4 linked regions of the Homo sapiens genome follow. The protein of the gene in region 2 purifies or fractionates together with the protein of the main gene of each other region. This does not show direct contact. Each region holds a gene or a part of one and is shown on either strand. Other genes may lie near its edges.

Region 1 (4,182 bases), on a different chromosome or scaffold from region 2:
CCATGGAAAAAATAATAAATAAAATGTGTAGTTTTTAAAAATATAAACATTTTTTACACTCAAGATATCCAAGCAATTGAGTGACAAAAGCTTTTTCAATGTAACCCCAACAAAAAGAATTATGGAAAACAAATGTAAATATGCCTAGAATCATTACACATACTCATAATCAGTAAAAATAACATATAACTGATTTCATTAAGAATTTTCGATATATCAAACTTACTCTACGCAGGGCATTTTGAAAATCATTTGCCAGTTCTAAAGTAGTAATAATAAATACTCCAAGAACTAAAAGTCCCCCTGGTAGCATTCTGGATACCTAAAAATAGAAATATATTATTAGCTAACAAATTGGCATTATATGCAATCCTTTCTGTTTGAGAAACTGTCTGCTTAGCATGTCCTTAGCTTTTCACCTTAAAACTACTTTATAAATAAAACTATCTGATAACAACATCCTTTAGCTACATCAATAAATAAATCCTTTTCTCAGGAGATCAAAGACTGAAATATTTTTTCAATGGCGTCCCACCATCAGCTAAATAAAATGAAGTTTTATTTTAGATTGATATTTCAGACTTTCTAGGATCTGGTCAATGATGTTTATACCCTCATTTGACACTACTTTTCCTCAAGTAATTCAAATATTTGTCAAAAACTACTTGAAAAGTAGTGTCAAATGAGGCTATAAACTGTTTTCCATACACATCCTAGGCTTTCTAACTATGTGTCTTTACTCAGGGTGTTCCCTAGGCCGAAACTGACTTTTTCTTATACTTCTGCATGTCTCAACCCTACTGGATACTTCAAAGGCAGCTTGAGGAAGCTGCCTTCTCTGATCTTTTCATCTCTGAACTCCGACAGGGCTTTGGTGTAGTTTTCCCATGGATTTTATCACATAGTCTTATATCATAGTTATCTGTGAACCCTACTAGTTGGTCAGGGAGCTCCTTAAGGGAATAAGTAATTCTACCTCTGTATCCCTATTTTTAGCAGCATACTAGATCTGGAATTTGAACAGAGGGAGTCTGACTTGAAAATCCATTATTTTCTATTGCATAGATTAACCTCAAATTTTTAAGCCCACTTACTGATACTGGGCATCTTTGCTATATCTAATTTTACCTTAAAATAATATTGATTAAAAATCCTAGTACATCTTTCTGCATTCATAGAATTATTTGTTTAGGACAAATCCCTTGAGGTGGATAACTGGTTTAAGAAGTTATACATATTTTTAAGGTTTTTGATACATACTACCATGATATCTCCATATCTGTATTTCCCTTCACATGATTGTGGCTAGTTCTTAATACCACATGGATTTTTTTCTATCATCTACACTCAGAGATTAGAGTGTTTTGGTTAGCTTTTGATTACTTAATGTACAAGCAATCAATCAGAGTACAGTCTTAGAAAATTAGGTACCATGCTCTAATCCTTAATCTACTTGCACTATGTCTTTCGGTGTTTTCCTCTGATTTAATAAATTCTATTTACTATAGTAGCACAATTCTGACAAATAAAGTTTTCATATTTAGCATAAGGAGCCTGCATATCTTTTCAAAATCACCAACACAAAAAAGTAACCATTTTTTAGGAGATGGAGGTGAGAGCAAGAAAGGGGAAAAAGTAAAATTAACCTTTTCTTTCTAGAGGTAAAAGGTTAAGCTAATTTACTATATAAATTCATTAATATTCTGTGTGTGTGTGTGTGTGTGTGTGTGTGTGTGTCATATACAATTTTATGAGAGACCAAAAGCAAAATTAGAGTAGAAAGTTATTTACAAACCATTGGGAATTTAACTTTACATTACTTAATATTTTCTTTAGAAGATAGTTGCCATGTTTGTCCCCTTAAACACCATGTTGAAATGTGAACCCAAGTGGGGCCTAATGGAAGGTGTTTGGGTCATGGGGCAGATCCCTCATTAATGGCTTGGTTCCATCCTCAGAGCAGTGAATGAGTTCTCGCTATATTTGTTCCTACGAGAGCTGGTTGTTAAAAAAAAAAGCCTAGCACCTCCCAACCCCTTGCTTCCTCTCTGGCCCAGTGATCTTTACACACCAGCTCCAATCTGCCTTCTGACATGAACAGAAGCAGCCTGAGGCTTTGACCAGATGCTCAATCTTGCAGCCAGCAGAATCATGAGCCAAACAGGCCTTTTTTTCTTTATAAATTACTCAGTCTTAGGTATTCCTTAATAGCCACCCAAACAGACTAAAACAATAATAATTAAATACTGGATTTCTTCGTTTTGTTTTGTTGAGACAGAGTCTCGCTTTGTCGCCCAGTCTGGAGTGCAATGGTGTGATCTTGGCTCATTGCAACCTCCGCCTCCCAGGTTCAAGCAATTCTCCTGCCTCAGCCTCCCAAGTAGCTGGGATTACAGGCACCTGCCACCACACCTGGCTAGTTTTTCATATTTTTACTAGAGACGGGGTTTCACCATGTTGGCCAGGCTGGTCTTGAACTCCTGACCTCAGGTGATCCACCCACCTTGGCCTCCCAAAGTGCTGGGATTACAGGCAAGATTTTATTTTTTTTTTAAATATAACTACACACTGCTCCATAATCAAACACATACACAGACACAAATATATGTCCATATATATATATATATATATCTACATACACAGAAACACGTTTGAGTTTAAAAGATTTAAAGATTTAAAGTTGATTGGAAAAGGAAATAAATCTTTTATTTATTAAAGAAAATTCTTTTTCTTAAAACAAACAAACAAAAACGCAGAATGTGCAAGTCTGTCACATAGGTTTACGTGTGCCATGGTGGCTTGCTGCACCTATTGACCTGTCCTCTAAGTTCCCTCCCCTCACCCCCAACCCCAGAAAAGGAAATAATTCTATTTTTACCTTATTCTAACATTATTTATTTGATGATATATAATTCATTCAATAAATACTTGTAAGTGAATTAATTTAGTCATTATTCCCACTCACCCATCCCAAATCTGTTTCTTCCTCGTGTAATGCCAACAGTATCCTCCTAGACACCCAGACTAAAAATCTCAGTCATCTTTAGCTACTTTCTCCCTATGTCTCTTCTCTCTACTCATTCACTAAATCTTCTTGATTCTAGCTCTTTTTTGAAATAAAACTTAAACATATAAACAAAAAAATAAGATAACCTGGCAGGCATGTTCTGTGGCCCATTCTTCATCCAAGTTATCCAACTTAGCTTTGGGATGTTTGAGGTTCTCACTTTGCTCCTCTTTGGGTGGCGTTCTAGTGGCAAGAATCACATAATCCTTTTGTGACGAACACTTCAACAACAAATTAAAAAGCTTGTTAGAGTGATATCTGATTCCTCAATCTAATTAGAGTGATACCTAAATTCCTTAGCTTTTATGACATGCAAAAACTGAGTAATATTTGTAACAGGTTAAATCATTAATACCCACATTATAATGGAAGCTAAAGGGAAGCTAATTTTCAAGGATGGCCTTACAATCTTTCCCTCACATGTTGTTTATCTTTTAATGTATTTAATATCAGCTTCTTATTTATTTGGACAACTCAAATGTAAATCATGGAGTGGTCCCTAAAAATGGTTTACTGGATGAGTGAATGAATTACATTAACTAAAAAGTAATATGCTTATTCAGTTTTCTAGTTATATTTGTTTTATAAGTTATAAATGAACAGATCGGAAAATATTAGTAAAATGAAACAACAAGTGACCTTTTGTATCTTATTTTAATTGAAATGATGACAGTAGGGAACTTCCACATACATTTCCACAGAATAACAAAGGGGATTTGGGACACAATTTAAAGTGATACAGATTCTATGTTCCTCAAGTTTTTTGTTTTGTTTTGTTTTTTGTTCTTTGTGTGTGTGTGTATTTATTTATTTATTTAGAGACAGGGTCTTGCTCTAATGCCCAGGCTGGAGTGCAGTGGTGTGATCATAGCTCACTGCAACCTTGCACTCCTGGGCTCAAGCAATCCTCCCCCCAAGTAGTCTCCCAAGTAGCTAGGACTACAGGCTCAAACAATCAGCCATAATGCCTGGCTTTTTTTTTTTTTTTTTTTTACTTTTTTGTAGAGACAGAGTCTTGCTATGTTGCCCAGGCTAGGTCAAACTCTGACCTTCAAGCAATCCTCCCACCTCGGCCTCCCAAAGCATTGGGATTACAGGCATGAGCCACCACACCC
Region 2 (4,182 bases):
TTCTGGAGAAAGGTGAAGAAACAAGCCTGTAGAAAGAAAGGCCATCAATGAAGTGATATTCATAGATCCTGTGGATCTTGTGAATAGATTCTGATTTTCTGTAGGAAAAGCTAGTAAGGAATGGATTTGATTGAGTCAAACAGGGCTGTCCCCAGGTCCTACTGTGAAGTGACTGTATTTCATCTTTGATGTCTCTTTACCTCCCCAATTAGATATTTTTTTTTTCTCTTGCTGCTGCCCTCACATCTTTATTCAATTCTTGGTCCCCTGGGATTGGCAGCAATACCTGGTGAGGCGTTTCATGACTGTCCCCATAAGGGAGAAAGTAAGTGAAGGTTTTCCATGCTGCATCTCCTCAAAAGGAGCAATGGTGTTGACTTCTCAGTTTCTGGCTCCTGAGCATGTGCACAGATATCTTCTAGAAGAGAATAGATTTTTACATAGTGGGGGTTGAGCTGTTATAATTTGAGAAGACTGGAAATGGTGACCTGGAGCCAGTACATGTCCATGGGATCCATGAAGCAGGGGGATTTGCTTTGTTATGTTTTGCAGGGGATGTAAGTAAAACAGCAATCAAGTTTTGAAAAATTTTAACATGAGAAAATGTTTACAATAATGTTACAGGAGATAATATGTAATAATAATGGCAATAGGTAAATAGAAAAAATACTGAAAGAAGTTACACCAAAATGTTAATTGTGATTATCTTGGATCGATGAAATCATGGGTACTTTTTGTTTTCTTCTTTATGTATTTGTACAGTTTGTCTATACAGACTAATTCTAATTTTCCAAAATGAGAATATGTTATTTTCCTTAACAGAAAAATAAGATAGAGTAGTGACAGACTATAATCAACAGAACCATTAATATGGAAACAACCTAAACGACCTGTGATAGGGGATTCATAAAGACAAACTGAAGCTATGGTACAGCCATATAACATAGTGTGCACTTATCACTGTGATCAGAGTGTGACATTCAAAGATTTTTATTATACGTTGTTAAGTGGAAAAACATAGGATAGGAAAAAGAATATATAGTAAATCCTATATAGCACATGTAAATATATGTAAATGTATATGTAAATATGTACCTTTCTGGAAGAACATAAATGAAAATGTTATGGGGAATGCGATTATTGGTAATGCTTTTATTTTTTGCTTATCTGTTTTTTCTAATTTTCTGCACTAAAACATGGATTGTTTACACAATAAGTGAATGTTTATATAACTCAAATCCAAAGACATTCTTAGAGTAATAATGTCCTATAAGAGATAGTAGCAAATCATATATTTATAAGCAATGTTGCCATCTGCTGGATCACAGGGAGAAACTCACCCTCTTTCTTTTTCATTTGGAATTAGGAAATGAAGGCCAGGTAGAGTGGCATGTTTCAGACAAATGCCTAGACAGTAATAGTGACTTAACACAAGAGTTCTTTTGATTCACATAAAAAAGAAGTAATCTAGTGACCGAGTGGGACCCGGATCCTGAGTACCGCTGTTCAATTTCATGTAAAAATTTAAAAATATCTTATACTAAGTGTGTTTGCAGGCACACTTATCCATAAAGACAATTCTGAGTTATCCATTTTATGGATTTTTTGGGGGGAAAGGTTTATGTCCTAACATAACTTTTTTCAGCTGCTTGGCATGGTACTCAGCCCACAGCAACACTGCGAAAATTTGTGGAGTAAATGATTACTTCTGGCTGACTTAATGCAACCAACAGTTTGACGTATTTTTATGGAATATAAATTAATTTATATATGAACCAATCACAGCATTAGCTCTCTTGATATGTAAACATAAAATAATAAAATGCTTCCTAAAGCCAAATGATGGTAGTTTATCTGCCATTTTGGATAAACTACCTTGCCACTTCTCATCATCATCGGACTCACTTCTTCATTTCATTCAGCACACTCACTGAATGTAACTTTTCTCACTCACCGTTTTTATTATGTGCATAAAAACCTAAATATTTTCACAGTATCTCTATGGAAAAATACTGTTAATGTTTACCTTCCCCGTTATTCCAGTTTCCCAGAAAGCCTAGTGGCTGGATGTCATAGTTTGGGCCGCTGTTGCAAAATGCCATAAACTTGTTTGCTGGTAAACAAGAGGAATGTATTTCTCACAGTTGTGGAGTCTGGAAAAGTCTGGGAAATGCAGGATCATGGTGGGAAATGCAGGATCACGACTCTGGCCCATTCAGGATCTGGCGAGGGCCTGCCTGGGGGAGGGACCACTTCCTGCTTCCTGGACACAGTGCTGTCTTGCTGTGTCCTCACATGGTAAAAGGGGGAAGGCAGCTCTCTCAGGCCTCTGTTATGAGGTACTAGTACCACGAATGAGGGCTTGGGCCTCATGAACGAACCACCTCTTAAAGGCCCCACCTCCTTAGACCATCACATTGGGAGTCAGGATTTCAACATTGGAGTTTTGGGGCAACACAGACCATAGAAGTGGTAGACTGCTGCCTTTGAGAACTAATCCTTGCTTTCCTTACCACACTGCAGGTGAGCTGATCAACCTTGCCATGTACTGTGAGAGGATAAGGAGGAAATTTTGGCCAGAGTGGCACCACGATGATGACAATACCATCTATGAGTCTGAGGAGAGCAGCGAAGGCAGCAAAACCCACACCCCGCTGCTGGATTTTAGCTTTTACTCAAGGACAGAGACCTTTGAAGATGAGGGAGCAGAAAACAGTTTTTCCAGAACCCCAGACACAGATTTTACTGGACACTCACTCTTTGATTCGGATGTGGACATGGATGACTATACAGACCACGAACAGTGCAAGTGACGTCCAGCCTCACTGACCCTCTTCCTTGGGACCTGCCACTCCCTGGGTCGGTCCATTTTCCCAGGTAGCAATCCATCCGAGCTGGGAGGAGATCTTCGTGCTTGGCAGAGTTTTCACATGCTAACTGGACTATAGCAGCCTTATTTCTTTTTTGTACAAACAAAACACAGAACCATTCAGATGACTCCATTGAAAACAAACAGGCAAAAAATAATGTCAGCATGGTTCCTGAAATCCATTTTTGTTTTCATTAGAAAACTATTAATAATATTGTGTGGTAGAGCAGGTGTAAGAGCTGGTTGTCAGCTGATAGTTTTTATGATGATCCTCTTCAACCCTGAGGTCTTAATTGTGAGATGGATTCTTGAACCTCCTTCCTCCACCAGGATTTGAAGTAATGAGAGATATCATCAGAAAAATGTTTTACGGTGGCTGCTTGTACTTTATGTGTGTATATTGTATGTTGAGACATAAGTCAAATAAAATCCACAGATATTAAACGAACACCTACTATGTGCAAAGCACTGTGCTAGGTGCTAATCAGTATACATTTTATTCTAAGCCCTGCCAGTGACTAGCTGTGTGATTTTGAGCAAATCTCTTATTAACTATTGGGTGCCTCATTTCTCCCACCTGTAAAGTGGGGATGACAATACTCTCCACCTACCTACCTCACAGGGGTGTTGTGGGGATTCATGTGGTAACATTCGTACGGCGCTTTAAACCTCTTAGAAGTGGTGCGACATAAACACAGCATTTTATTCTTTATTGCACTTCATGCATGTGAAGATTTGAGGGCAAAGGAATTCCATATCCAGGCAACCACCACCACAGTCACCTGCAAAAGCTGAGCAGATGAAATACACACAAAGGTACACTTAGGACTTTGTCATGATTCCTTTCTGTAATCTTGGCTGAATCAAAATCTTTTGTTCAAAGAACATTGGAAATGTTTTTACAAATTATCGACAGCTACAAACAGTCTTCAATTCTACCATGTATTTGCAGAAAAGTGGTTCTTTCATTGCCTGAACTCACCCTGGCATGTTCTGTGTTGACTCCAGAGTGTTACGTTGCCTATGTTTGATTTATTTGAGAAGAATAAATCTCAGGTATATGGCAGGTTTCATAGAGTTGAAGGGAAAGTATTTCATTGATTTTTATAAGCAGAAGCCTGCCAACTTGTAATGTCTTTTTGAAAACAAACCTTGCAAAGATGTATTGAAAAGATGAAGTAGCAAGAGGATACTTGTATCAAAGCACTCTGTGCAGTGTTAGACTATATGCAGTTTTATTAATGCAACTTTTCTGGTGTTTTCAGCCACTGCCCAGTGAGAGGAGAGCAATGCTGAGAACAAGTCTTAATGTT
Region 3 (4,182 bases), on a different chromosome or scaffold from region 2:
GAGTCACATTATATACAAATAAAACATAACCAGCAAAGGCTAATAAACATCATCTGCAAATGGATCCATCATTGGTTAAATGATTTGGGACAGACGGCTGCAGTGATCAGCCTAGATGGTAAATGAGTCATGAGAATGCACATTAGGTGGCAGACAACCATCAGTTCAGGGTGGGCTTCCTTCCTTCCTTCCTTCCTACCTGGCATTCTTTCTCTATTCTCCCTAGTGGCCCTTTAAAAATGCATAAGCATTTAGCACAAACATCATTACCTGGTTTACCTCCAGAGACACCCGATGACTTCTTGATTTCCGACTTTAGCTTAGATGCCAGAATAAATCTCCTAAACCATTCCTCTTTTTCTCGGCCAGTTCTCCCAAAGAGATAGAGTATCTGATCTCGCTGGCTAGATCTTGTTCCCTCCTGAGGGCGGGGTGGCTTCTTAGGGTCCTCACTTCCCTCAGCTGGCGGCTTCTCTTCTGAAGTCTCCTTATCAGTCTGAGCTTTAGACATAAAGTCATCTTGCTGACCAAGCTCGATACAAATGGGGTACTTTTTATTCCAGATTCGCTTTCGAGCCAAAGTTTTAGGTACAAGATAAATCTACAGAGAAAGAAAAATGATGATTTATATATTAAAGATTGGCTACACTATGCATTAATATTATGCATAGCACAAAGTGCAAACCTTATAGACTTTTTGACTAAAATGATGAATATGAAATAACTTTCAACACTTGTTCATAACATGACTACAGAAACTGGAATTTTCAGAAGTGTCTTGTTATTCTTCAAAATCATTCCACAAAGTAGGCATTTAATAATTTTGCGAGAGTTATAAATATCCGTAATTTTCAGGTGGCAGTAGCACAATAATAATGTTTAGCTGCTTATCATCAACTATGTTTGGCTATCAACTGAATTTAATGACCTTGGACCAAACTTAAGTTGGAAGAAAAAAAAAGATAGCTAAAATCTAGATGGGAAGCTAAAGTCAACCTTGAGTATCAAACTCAAGTTAAGAATAAACTTATATAAAAACTATTTTAAGTACTTCTCTCACATTGGAGAAATCTAAAGATCATTCAGATGAACTGTAAGAACAGAGAAACAATAGCTTTGTGGAATACATAATTTACATTTCTCACAAAAATAGAAGTATATAATACTTAATCAAAATGTAGTTATTTTGCATATCTATCATTTGCACATGTACAAAGACTTCAATAGTTAAGTACCGCAGAATCACCACACATAGCCACACAGCTTTTTGTTTGACTGAAATAATTAGCTTTTAAAGGCAGAATTCTGAGTGCACAACACTTGTTCCTCAAGTTGTGGTCTGTGGACCAGCAGCCTGAGTATCATCTGGGAGCTCATAAAAATGCAGGCCCGAGGCCCTGCCCACAGCTACTGAATCAGAATCTGCATTTAACAAGATGCCCAGGTGATGTGCATAAACTTTAAAGTGTGAGAGGTACTGTCCCCTAAGGTATACTGTTCAACGACCACAAACCTTTTTAGGGTATAAAAAAATGCAGTTAAGCATCCAAGATGCCATATGCTTTTCATTCATCTAAGCTATCCTTCCAAAATTGCTCAGGCTCACCTTGCTGTCTGAGAGGTCATAGATTTTCTGGCTGATGTAGGTGACCTCTGGCTTGGGTTCATTGTAGCTGGCCCTCCTGGATATATTTTTATTGGGCTTTGAAAGTCTTAAGGTTCCACCCTCAAGTCGAACAAAGACTGAATGTGTCAAAGTCGCATGGTAGGTTTCTGGATCATAGTTGTAAATCTCATTCATCCATCCCTGATGAAGAAAAACTTCCATTAGTAATATCAGAATAATCGCAAATCTGATTTAGTGTGAAATGATGAACACTGTGGTATTTGGGACACTGAAACCAAACTTGATCACGACACAGATATCAGCTCACCAATGACTACAGGTTGCAAAGAGAAGTGCTTAGCTGGGAGGATAACTGGAACTGAGGAGGTTTTTGATAACCAAAAATCTGGATTTGGAGGAAAAATGGCAATGTTCATTATCCTAAATAAAAGGTTCTTTCTTTTTTTAAAGCTTATAAGCACATCAGGAAACTCAGAAGATTTGTTCATGTGACTGAGCAAGCCTCTCTGCCTGACCTCCTTTGGGGTGATTAATCCCACCCAGTCTGGCCTTCTTAATTAGCTAAACACATGCTCTTCCCAGCCCAGTTGGAATCTTTGAAATTTCAGGTATTAATTCATGTTATCACAGGACTCAGAGAACTACCTCTCCACTTCTGTTGCACTACAATATGTACCTCATTGAAACCATGCAGTAAAGCAGATGATTGAGAATTAGGCATTAAATACATCGTAAATATAATCAATAATATATCAAAATTCAAAGATACATAGTAACTTAAATGGGTAAAATTGTGCTCCAGGTCCCCCTGCCAAATTGGACATAAATGATTTTGTGTTACATATCTTGATTTTTTAAAAGAGCCAACACTGAAATGTATGACAAAAAATACATACACAAAAGCCTAATACACTATACACTGTGTTAAAGCTAATCTCATAGCTGTCATCATCATTCATCACTGAACACTTCTCCTGCCTCAAATACTTTTTCAGGTTATGAGTAGCCCAGATCTCACAAAAGAAGTCCTCTGGGGAGTTTTAATTGATATCTTCCTACTCTCCCCAACTTTTTAAAAATACATGTCTTTGTAATGAGCAGAGAGATGCTAAAGCTCACTACATGGGAGTTGGGACTGTCATTCTTTTCAAGCAATAGCCATTTCCATGCTAAGTATTTGAGTCTCACACTAAAGTCTTGAATTGAAAGCCTATGAGAATGAGGACTCCTCAGAATTCTTTCATTCATCCTTTTATTAAAACACGCATTGAATCTATGTGCGAAGCAATGGGTTAGGAGTTGGGACAAAGATTTTTTAAAAGGACAGGATTCTTGATCCAAAGGTGCCTCCAAAAGAGTAGAGAATTAGGTCTTCATTCCCGTATCCTATGACCCCACTGTAGTAAACATAATAGAGACAAGTTGTCACAAACAGAGCACCTAAGTGTGAAGTGGAAGGAAAAATGGACAAACATATCTCTTTGTCATGGGGGAAAGAGTGTGAAACTTATGAGCCAATTATATGGATTTATATACCTCAGTAGATGTTTTGGCCTGAGCTGGGAGGTTCTCTCCCTCCTCCCAAAGAATGACCGGACAGGAGCAGCATCTATTCAACAATATTGAGTGAGCAAGCAGTGGCCATGGGAAGAGGCGTTTGTGAGGAAACAGCAACAATCAGAGCAATGAAGAGAAAAAGATGACAATTACAGATCACAGTGGGGCCTGAAGTGGACTGTATTGTCAGAGCATCCGTTTGGGTGGGTGTATTTTTGCTAAATGTAGAACTAAGTACTTTCTTTGGCTCACAGTTTTTTTGTCTTTTTCTTTAGTCTGTTCTTATGGCAAATTACATTCATTGACTTTCAAATGTTGAACCAGTCTTGCATTCTCAGGATTAAGGATGTATGAGTCATGATGTGCTGAAATTGGGCTGTATCAGCTCACAAGAACGGATTCTACACATCTCTTCCTAACTCCATGTTCAGTGACTTCACGTTGGTAGCTTTCAACTGGCAACAGTGGGAGTTGCTACATCACGGAAATCAGGGAATAGTCAAATCAAGATTTTTTTTTTTTTTTTTTTTTTTTGGAGAGCCAGTTTACCAGCATAACACTTTGCTGATATTTTGTTCATTTGTCCCTCTAAGTTCATGAAGGAAAATGGTCTATAGTTTTCTTGCAGTGTTTTTTGGTATTAATGAGCCTCAGAAAATGCAGGTAAGTGCATTTGGGAAGTGTTCCCTCTTCTCTATTTTCTGGAAGTTTGTGTAGAATTAATAATATTTCTTCCTTAAAGGTTTGATAGCATTTGCCCATGAAGCTATCTGGGCCTAGATTTTTCCTTGCAGAAAGGTCCCAAACTATGAATTCAATTTCTTTACTTGCTATTGGACTATTTAGGTTATCTATTTCTTCTTGAGTAAGCTTTGGTTTGTATCTTTCAAAGAGTTTATCTATTTTATCTATGTTGTCCAATTTCTGGGCATAATGTTGTTTACAATATTTCCCTATAATCCTGTGAATATCTGTAGTGTCTATGGTGATGCCCCCTC
Region 4 (4,182 bases), on a different chromosome or scaffold from region 2:
CCTCCCCTACTGTAGCTTCATCACACCACTGAAGATACAGCTAGGAACAAAAGAACAGTCACTAAACTTTAGAATACCAAAGAGGAAAAGGATAAAGAAAGTTATTTTTTGCCAAGGCAATTTTTTATAAGCTAATTTCATAAGTCACACATGTAGCGGTTTGTTTTTCTTAGCTGCTATCCACAAAAATGTAATGATGGTACGTTATAAAAATATTTTTTATTCACACAATACATGTCTAAATACCATTAAAGTGTTTTACAGATATTATTTAAGCAAATTTCAAAAGGCCAAAGTAAAATAATGAGTAGGCAAGAATCACTCCTTTTTATAAACAGAAAAACTAGAACTGAAAATGTCAGGTAACTTGTTCAAAGGTAATAATCAAATAATTTAGGTAGCCAACTCAACTCTAGAATTACTTGACTATTTTCCCATTTCTCAATAACTTTAACCCATAAGAAAGATTATATTTTATGAGAATGAGAGAAAAAGCTTATTTTCAAGCCGTATCATCTAGTATTTTACCTCTGCAGTCAACAGCATATTGTTGACTAATTCCATGTAAGCTTTCATTTCTGCTTTTTGGACTTCCTCCAGCCCATCACTAAGAGAATGGCCCTAAAGGGAATTTAAAAAAATTTAAAAGAACATCATATTAAATATACAAAAACTTTCAGTTATCTCACTAACAAATAACGTAACATGCAACTATACAATGAATTAAACGTCCAAAATGCCCCCTAAAAATTATTTTATATAAAAGCATAAATAATACTCTGCTATCACTACAAAATATTAGTATGTACTTACTTGTCATTATACAAATGTATCTTTCAATAGAGAAAATTACACTATCAACTACTTCACAAAAGAAGAAAACAGAATGGTCAGCAAACCTTGTTTAAGAGATTAACCTTATTTAGAAATAAAGGAAATGCCAAAAGACTGACATGTGCTGTTTATAAAGTGGTCAAAGATGAAAAAAATACGTTTGTAAAGATATGGGGGGAGAAACCCACTTATTTTAAAATTCTAATACTCTATAGTTACTAGGAGATACATAAAATGATATAACCTTTAGTTCAATCTGGCAATCTATTACAAGATTTAAAAAGTACATAACCTATGACATCCTAATACCACTCTCAGGAATTTATCCTAAGGTACCAATACCAACCTTAGGAATTTATACAAAGATGTATATATAAGAAAATTTATCTTAGTACTCTATAAAAACAAAAAATTGGCCATGACCTAAAAGCCCAACAATAAACTTGAGTAAATAAAATTCTAATTTATCCAATACAGGGGGAGGGTGTTGAAGAAAAAAAAAATAATATATATATATATTTTGGAGATATATATATATCTCCAATACAGCAGAATACAACAATGTGAAAGGATGATATATACCTACAGCTATTAATATGGAAGAATTTCCAAACATATTTATGATTTTAAAAGGTATGTTGCAAAATAATACACACTAGTATGATCTAGGTTTTTCTATATATTCAAAAAGTCTGGAATGATTTTTCAGAAACACTAATGGGAGTTGTTCCTTAATAACTATTAAAATCTAAACTGAATAAATGAAAAGCAGAATCATTCAAATGGATAAATACATTCAACTTCAAACAAATCCTGTATCTCCCTTTTCAAAGGTCAGCCAGACACTTCAAAACCTAATAGTTTTTCATTTATGACCACAGTTGTAGTAAGCATAAGTTAGAAAATTATCTACCATTTTGTAAAGATCAAACCATCTCTTTAGACTAGATATTAAAATTACATACCTTTAATAAATTTGACATTAATAGAGGAAAAAAAGCTACCTCTTTTGCCATTATATCATGAAAAAATACTAACTTACACTTCAGAAATATTTTCCAGTAGTTTGCATTGGCATTTTATAAAACTAGGTTGAAATCAATGTAAATGTTAAGACACATTAAAGAATGATGAATGACTTGGTAACTGATCAAATACATTTAATATCTTTTTATTACCTTGGCTTTAACAAATTGGACTATTGGACCAAGTTCTGATACTACTTGATTTCCCACATGAATAAAAGGTACTTTACCTGTTGAGAGAAAAAAAAAGTATTTATAAAAATACTTCCAGTATGTTAAAGTTTGTGATAATTAAAAAAAATTAACACAAAACTCAGGTATTTATAAATAGGGATTTCATAAAACTGTAACTTTTGAAAATTTTTGTCAGATGTGTATATTAAATTCTGTAAGTTTTTAAACTGATTACTAACCAACTTTAGAAAAAAAGAACAGGTAAATTCATTTCTAGAGTTCTCACTTAGATATAATAACAGATCACATAACATTCTCTTTTCAGAGCCAACACAAACATATCACCATATAGCAGCAAACACTAATTATCCAAATTACATGAACCAAGCCAGGACACTGGTACATGACCACTGATATATTTCAAAGAAATGTAAGCTTTCTTTTCAGAGTACAGTGAATCAATCTATATTGTAAACTACATTTAAAAAACCTTTTTACATCTTTTAAGTCTTTGATACCCATTGAGATCAACATTTTAAGCAAGTAATTGTATATCAATAAATCTCTTTAACTCAAAATAGCAAGAATTAAAAGAATTAACAATCTTTGAAGGCATGCTAGTTGGTGAGTTGTAATACAGAGTATGTTCCCAACATGTGGGAAAAAATAATAGTATGTTTATAAAAACTAGCTTCTATAGATAAATGTCACATTAAAAAAGAAATATTTCACTTTAACAAATACTAATACTTGGAATTATTAGAGATGAGAGAACAAAATAATCTCCAAATAGCAAGAAGGGTCTACTCCAAATGCTAAAGAATGAAACCTGCTGTCACACCTAGTTCAAATAGAGTTCACACTAACAGCAGGCTTCTTCCTGTTCCTTTTCAATAGATTCACTCCTCTCTGGCTCCGTCAGCCTGGGGGTAATGGATGAAGTACAGAGGCCTAACAAAAGCTTCAACTGCATCCATAGGACAACATGCATTACAAAGAAAAGGCAGGCCTTTTGGAACACAACAACTCAATAGATGTATTGAGAAGATATTTCCCTGTTGCCAATTCTGCATTCCTTCCTTCTACTGCTTTATAAATCTTGCAAAAAAAAATTTTTTTATCTGGTTAAGCATTAGGCCACATTGTTTTCTTAACTCGGGATAAAATCTTTGTAACTACTATACTACCAGAATTATTACAGGTCCCCTGAGATCAAATGATCTGAGAATGAAAACTATTTAGTACCTAGACAAACAGTATTTGGGGGTATAATATTTTTAGAGCAAAGCATATTCCTTGTTTTTAATGACCAGTTTCAGGTTCTTGGAAAAAAGGGTTTGTATTTTTTTTCTTTTCTTAAAAATACATTGAGCGTTGTCAATTCTGAAGCAAAAAGAAGTGTGGATAGTCAACTGAGTATTAATCTTATATATCTCTAAATATAAAGAGATATATAAAAACAAACACAACAAATTAGAAGTGAATAATGTTTTCTGTCACTAGCCTGCTTAATGAAAATGGAGCCAATGTTATATCCTTATTATTGCAGGTATCAGGCAAAAACACAGTAAGACAGTTATTTTCTGGTGCGAATCAAAGGTCATATAAGAAAACTGAGGGCTTTGTTTACCGTCTTAGACAGAATAATCACTTTTAAAATTTTTATTCTAAAGAAAGCAAGAATATGTTGCCAAACAAGTTGGCAGATTCAAAGAATGCAAGAAATAGGACCTTGGATGTCATCTAATCCGGCTACCTTATATTACAGATGAAGTCACTGAGGCTCAGAGAAGTGAAATTTCTCAAGGAAATAGTTAATATGTGACAAAGTCACAGAAGGATTAGTTAAAGATTTCCTAACTCTTTAGGAAATAAGAGTTTAAGTCAACTGGTCTTCTGACTAGTCCATGCTCTCTGCTTTAAAAATCTACCGCAAGATCAAAGAAGCAAATACAATAAAAAACATTTCCCTATCACCTCAAATCATTAAATGAAAGAGAATACCAATCTGAGATATGATAAAGTTTAAATATCTTAGTAGAAAGTGCCATTTTCATCTACCTATAGGAGACTCCTATGAAAGAATGTATATTTTTGTATGTCTCTAGAATATTTATGTTTGTCTTTCGCGCAATCTAATAAAAAGAAA

The links. Proteins that work in one complex are often made in the same cells at the same time.
Region 1: the proteins of FAXC (region 2) and ODR4 purify together in Homo sapiens (co-immunoprecipitation; 2 studies listed by BioGRID and IntAct, with this or other methods). This does not show direct contact.
Region 3: the proteins of FAXC (region 2) and TEX2 purify together in Homo sapiens (co-immunoprecipitation; 2 studies listed by BioGRID and IntAct, with this or other methods). This does not show direct contact.
Region 4: the proteins of FAXC (region 2) and MTX2 purify together in Homo sapiens (co-immunoprecipitation; 2 studies listed by BioGRID and IntAct, with this or other methods). This does not show direct contact.

Annotation. Positions count from the first base shown.
Region 1 is NC_000001.11:186,382,128-186,386,309, reverse strand, and holds part of ODR4 (protein odr-4 homolog), read right to left. Parts: intron 3,289-4,182; coding exon 3,154-3,288; intron 323-3,153; coding exon 227-322; intron 1-226. UniProt on the Homo sapiens protein: May play a role in the trafficking of a subset of G-protein coupled receptors.
Region 2 is NC_000006.12:99,279,795-99,283,976, reverse strand, and holds part of FAXC (failed axon connections homolog), read left to right. Parts: intron 1-2,523; coding exon 2,524-2,813; 3' UTR 2,814-4,182. UniProt on the Homo sapiens protein: May play a role in axonal development.
Region 3 is NC_000017.11:64,193,289-64,197,470, forward strand, and holds part of TEX2 (testis-expressed protein 2), read right to left. Parts: intron 1,808-4,182; coding exon 1,607-1,807; intron 602-1,606; coding exon 271-601; intron 1-270. UniProt on the Homo sapiens protein: During endoplasmic reticulum (ER) stress or when cellular ceramide levels increase, may induce contacts between the ER and medial-Golgi complex to facilitate non-vesicular transport of ceramides from the ER to the Golgi complex where they are converted to complex sphingolipids, preventing toxic ceramide accumulation.
Region 4 is NC_000002.12:176,324,732-176,328,913, reverse strand, and holds part of MTX2 (metaxin-2), read right to left. Parts: intron 2,090-4,182; coding exon 2,013-2,089; intron 622-2,012; coding exon 529-621; intron 41-528; coding exon 2-40; intron 1-1. UniProt on the Homo sapiens protein: Involved in transport of proteins into the mitochondrion.